Regions from separate parts of the Homo sapiens genome. Here region 1 is linked to region 2. Evidence: fine-mapped expression QTL. A gene starts in region 2. The other region holds a variant in brackets. All regions are shown on one strand. Distances are between the middles of the regions.

Region 1 (2,777 bases), 43 kb after region 2:
TTTTAGTAGAGATGGGGCTTCTCCATGTTGGTCAGGCTAGTCTCGAACTCCCGATCTCTGGTGATCCGCCTACCTTGGCCTCCCAAAGTGCTGGGATTACAGGTATAAGCCACCGCGTCTGGCTTTTTTTTTTTTTTTTTTTTTTTTAGATGGAGTTTCCCTTTGTTGCCCAGGCTGGAGTGCAGTAGCACAATCTCAGCTCACTACAATCTCTGCCTCCTGGGTTTAAGCGATTCTCCTGCATCAGCCTTCCGAGTAGCTGCCACCATGCCCGACTAATTTCTGTAGTTTTAGTAGGGACAGGGTTTCACCCCTGTTGGCCAGGCTGGTCTTGAACTCCTAACCTCAAGTGATCCACCCGCCTTGGCCTCCCAAACTGCTGGGATTACAGGCGTCAGCCATCTTGCCCAGCTGCCAAATCTAATTTTTTTTTTGTTTTTTTGGAGACGGAATCTCGCTCTGTTGCCCAGGCTAGAGTGCAGTGGCGCAATCTCGGCTCACTGCAACTTCCACCTCCTGGGTTCAAGCAATTCTGTCTCAGCCTCCTACGTAGCTGGGACTACCGTGCACACTGCCATGCCCAGCTAATATTTTGTGCTTTAGTAAAGACGAGGTTTTACCATGTTACCCAGGCTGGTCTGGAACTCCTGAGCTCAGGCAATCTGCCCGCCTCGGCCTCCCAAAGCGCTAGGATTACAGGCGTGAGCCTCTGCGCCCGGCCTTTTGTTTTGTTTTGTTTTTTGTTTTTTTTTTTGAGACAGAGTCTTCCTCTGTTGCCCAGGCTGGAGTGCAATGGCATGATCTCAGCTCACTGCAACCTCTGCCTCCCGGGTTCAAGCAATTCTCCTGCCTTAGCCTCCCGGGTAGCTGGGACTACAGGCGCACATCATCACACCTGGCTAATTTGTGTATTTTTAGTAAAGACAGGGTTTCGCCACGTTGGCCAGGCTGGTTTCAAACTCCCAACCTCAAGTGATCCACCCACCTTGGCCTCCCAAAGTGCTGAGATACCATGCATGAGCCACCACCCCCAGCCATCATATGAGGTCTTAACTACATAGCTTCCAAACACAAAACTTGGTCCCATAGGTACTCACTGACACCATCTAGATATACCTGCTTCCTCCCTTACTCTTTGACTCATTATACAGTGCCCTAAGGTATACACACTGATCCGCTCGCTCACAGTGAAGACCTTAGATTTAATCATTCATGCCTTCAAATGCATACACACATGCCTAGTCCCTTTTTTTTTTTTTTTTTTTTGTGATGGAGTTTCGCTGTTGTTGCCTGGGCTGGAGTGCAATGGTGCGATCTC[A/G]GCTCACTGCAACTTCTGCCTCCTGGGTTCAAGCTATTCTCCTACCTCAGCCTCCGGAGTAGCTGGGATTACAGGCATGTGCCACCAAGCCTGGCCAAGTTTTTGTATTTTTATTAGAGACGGGGTTTCTCCATGGTGGTCAGGCTGGTCTTGAACTCCTGATCTCAGGTGATCCGCCCGCCTCGGCCTCCCAGAGTGCTGGGATTACAAGCATGAGCCACTGCGCCTGGACTTTTTTTTTTTTTGAAACCGAGTTTCGCTCCTGTTGCCCAGGCTGGAGTGCAGTGGCGTGATCTCAGCTTACTGCAACCTCTGCCTCCTGGGTTCAAGAGATTCTCCTGCCTCAACCTCCCAAGTAGCTGGGACTACAGGCGCTCGCAACCATGGCCGGCTAATTTTGGCTTTTTAGTAGAGACAAGGTTTTACCACATTGGCCAGGCTGGTCTTGAACTCCTAACCTCAGGTGATCCACCTGCCTTGGCTTCCCAAAGTGCGGGATTACAGGCGTTAGCCACCATGCCTGGCTATGCCTAGTCCCTTAGATGCACGAAATGGACCTCAATGGCTATGCTGAGTGTAGCCACACTCAGGCAGACATGCTCATCCTCCTATGCAGATACCTTTGTACCGTTTTATAATTTTAGGGAAAATATGCTGACCAGTGATATCCTGGTAAGGGTTTAACAACTACCTTGCCAGGTTGGGAGAGGGGAACCCTGATTTGTAGCATTTGCCTATCTCCATGGTGTAAATACTCTGATCATGGGCTTGATATGTTGCCAGGATGGTGTACGGTGGCTATTCACAGGTGCCATCACAGGGCACTACAGCTTTGAACAACTGGGCTTAAGTGATCCTCCTGCCTCAGTCTCTCAAGTAGATGGGACAAGGCACTCGCCACTGTGCCTGCTTCCAGCACATCACTGAATGCTGACCATTATGGAATCCCTCGTTTGCTTTAAGTGACTCATTGGCTTCGTGGCAGGGTGGCTAAGAACATGGTCTTTTTGCGGGGAGGGGCACGGAGTTTCGCTTTTGTTGCCCAGGCTGGAGTGTAATGGTGCAATCTCGCCTCACCGCAACCTCCGCCTCCTGGGTTCAAGCGATTCTCCTGCCTCAGCCTCCTGAGTAGCTGGGACCACAGTCATGCGCCCCCACGCCCGGCTAACTTTGCATTTTTAGTAGAGATGGGGTCTCTCCATGTTGGTTAGGCTGGTCTCGAACTCCTGACCTCAGGTGATCCACCTGCCTCGGCCTCCCAAAGTGCTGGGATTACAGGCGCGAGACACTGCGCCCGGCTAGAACATGGTCTTTTATTTTTATTTTTATTTTTTTTGGAGACAGGGTCTCACTATGTCACACAGGCTGGAATGCGGTGGTGCCATCATAGCTCATTGTAACCTCGAACTCCTGGGCTTAAGGGATCCTGTGGCCTCAGCCTTTCAAGCAGCTGGGACTA
Region 2 (2,500 bases):
CGCGCCCGGCAAGGAAAAACAGTTTTTTAGGAAGGCCCCTGTCATTCTTAGTCCATAGGAATTTTTTTTTTTTTTTTTGAGACGGAGTCTGGCTCTGTCGCCCAGGCTGGAGTGCAGTGGCGTGATCTCAACTCACTGCAAACTCCGCCTCCCGGGTTCAAGTGATCCACCTGCCTAAGCCTCCTGAGTAGCTGGGACTACAGGTGCACGCCACCACGCCCGGCTAATTTTTGTATTTTTAATAGAGGCGGGGTTTCACCATGTTAGGCTGGTCTCGAACTCCTAACCTCGTGATTCGCCCACCTCGGCCTCCCAAAGTGCTGGGATTACAGGCGTGAGCCACCGAGCCTGGCAGATTATTTTTCACTTTAAACATTTTAGGAAAGACCCAAAGAATCCTCAGGGTTTACACTCACAGTACCTCGATTCCTGTATATTCCAAGATTTGTGGGAAGAAAAAGTACTAAGCTTGGAGTCAGGAGGCCTGATGTTTCTTCCTTTCACCAAGCTTCTCTAGTTCTGTTTCATTATCCCCATGGCAACAACTAGCAACAGTGACTGGCATTTAGTAGGCCCTTCATAAATATATGTTGAATAAACTCTAAAAGAGGTAGCTTTTCATTCCAAGTTGAGTTCTCTCTTGGTCCTGTTGCAGGCAAGGGCAATGGTACCCTGCCCTAGGTGCACAAGTGTGCAGGAGGGATCAATCGCAGAGCCTTTCCGAGAGAAGGGGCCCAAAGCGAGTCAACTTCTCTACTGAGCTTCCCATGAGGATGCTGGATCCCCAATCCTAACCATGCAGACGTCTGAGGGTCGCCGCCATTAACGGGAATGATATGGCCCTTCCTCCCCCACTCCCTCCTCTCTTCTCCCCTTTCAACACTTGAATTGGGCTCTCCGCTACTTCCGCACAGCGCAGGACCCACACGAGCCCAGAACCATCACGGCCTGCTAGTTCCCACCCCTCCCGTCCTGGAGGACCGTAGGTGGACGCTCTTGCAGAGCGCCTCTCGCTGGTTGGGGCGGGGGTGGGCGGAGCCAGCACCGTCTGGGCTGTGGAAGCGGAGGGGGTGGGGACACTCTGGCCCGGTTCTCGGTGGTGCGGGAGCGGGCGGGAGCAGCGGCCGCTCTGGTCGGCGGACGTGCTGCCGAGTAGTCCCGGAAGCGAAGCAGCGATGGCGGAGAGTCCGACTGAGGAGGCGGCAACGGCGGGCGCCGGGGCGGCGGGCCCCGGGGCGAGCAGCGTTGCTGGTGTTGTTGGCGTTAGCGGCAGCGGCGGCGGGTTCGGGCCGCCTTTCCTGCCGGATGTGTGGGCGGCGGCGGCGGCAGCGGGCGGGGCCGGGGGCCCGGGGAGCGGCCTGGCTCCGCTGCCCGGGCTCCCGCCCTCAGCCGCTGCCCACGGGGCCGCGCTGCTTAGCCACTGGGACCCCACGCTCAGCTCCGACTGGGACGGCGAGCGCACCGCGCCGCAGTGTCTACTCCGGATCAAGCGGTGAGCCGGGGTTTTTCCTCCCCCAGCCCCGAGCTCCGGGGCTCGACCTTCCCCGCCCCCCACCCTCTCCCACTACAACTCACCCCCCACCCACTGCGCTGCCCTCGCGGCGGCCCACCTCCACGGCCCAAATCTTGCCAGCTCCGGGCGTCGGGATCCAACTCCCTTCTCCCCCCACCCTCAGACCCGCAAGCACCAACCCCCGCCTCGTGTGCCCAGATCCGACCCCGCCCCTCGACAACCTCCCGTGAGCCCTCCGTCTCCATTCCGGCCACCCTCCCCCACACCTCCCACCTCCGGGTGGAAACCCGACCCTTTAGCGCTTCAGTAACGCCCCCTCCCGCCTTCGGCGCCGCCCCTATTTCCCCTTCCCCACCCCAACCTTGCTAGATGCTGCCCGCAGGCCCCACCCATCGGTCCCCTCTCTTCTCCTCTGGAGCCCCGTTCCTAACACAGACGAACTCAGCTTCCTTTGCCATGCCTCTGACTCGAGCCAACCTTTCTTTTTATCCTCCGTTTTTCTCAGATTCCCTCCACACAGTCTTTTCCCAGGTCTAGATCGCTTCCCTCGCCCCAATCTTTCCTTGAACCCCTTTTCCAGTGTCCCAAAGCTGTCCACTCTTACGCCTCTTCCAGAAACACAGGCTACCTCCCCCCAATTCCCCAGTGCCACTCTGGATTGTAATATCCCACTCAGGAGCTTCTTTCTTGTAATTTCCCTCCCCCCACCCCCCACCCTCCCCGGGTCGTCTGTTTTACTTCTATGAAGCAAATATACTCATCAAATATAGGAACAAAGGCCTAAGTCCTTTCTGTGCTTATTTCTTGGGTGACTGATCTTAGATCCTATCATTTAGTAGATGATGTTTTCCAGAAGCACATAGAATAGTACCTATCGCATAAGAAAAGGGCAGTGCTCTTTAGCTATTAATCCTGAAACCTGTTTGACTTCTCCCCATGCCCCCATCACAAGCATCTTCGTTTAGTTCTTATTCCCCATGTTCCACG

Evidence for each region. PIP is the estimated chance that this variant, and not a neighbour inherited with it, causes the effect. A credible set is the group of variants that fine-mapping cannot tell apart.
Region 1: its variant is the best candidate, but not a certain one, in a credible set for the expression of UBE2Z in lung (TOPMed, PIP 0.69).

Annotation. Positions count from the first base shown.
Region 1 is chr17:48,949,792-48,952,568 of GRCh38, forward strand. No RefSeq gene overlaps it. Among named protein-coding and RNA genes, the nearest start is that of SNF8, 6.3 kb to the left of the region's middle. The variant A/G (reference allele first, on the strand shown) is at 1,319.
Region 2 is chr17:48,907,329-48,909,828 of GRCh38, forward strand. UBE2Z (ubiquitin conjugating enzyme E2 Z) reads left to right here and starts at 1,079. Exons shown (of 7, transcript NM_023079.5): 1 at 1,079-1,492. The coding sequence starts at 1,176. It overlaps LOC105371814 (a long non-coding RNA gene), which reads right to left and starts at 1,655. Exons shown (of 4, transcript NR_135674.1): 1 at 1,611-1,655. RefSeq lists silencers at 1,218-1,467, 1,738-1,867.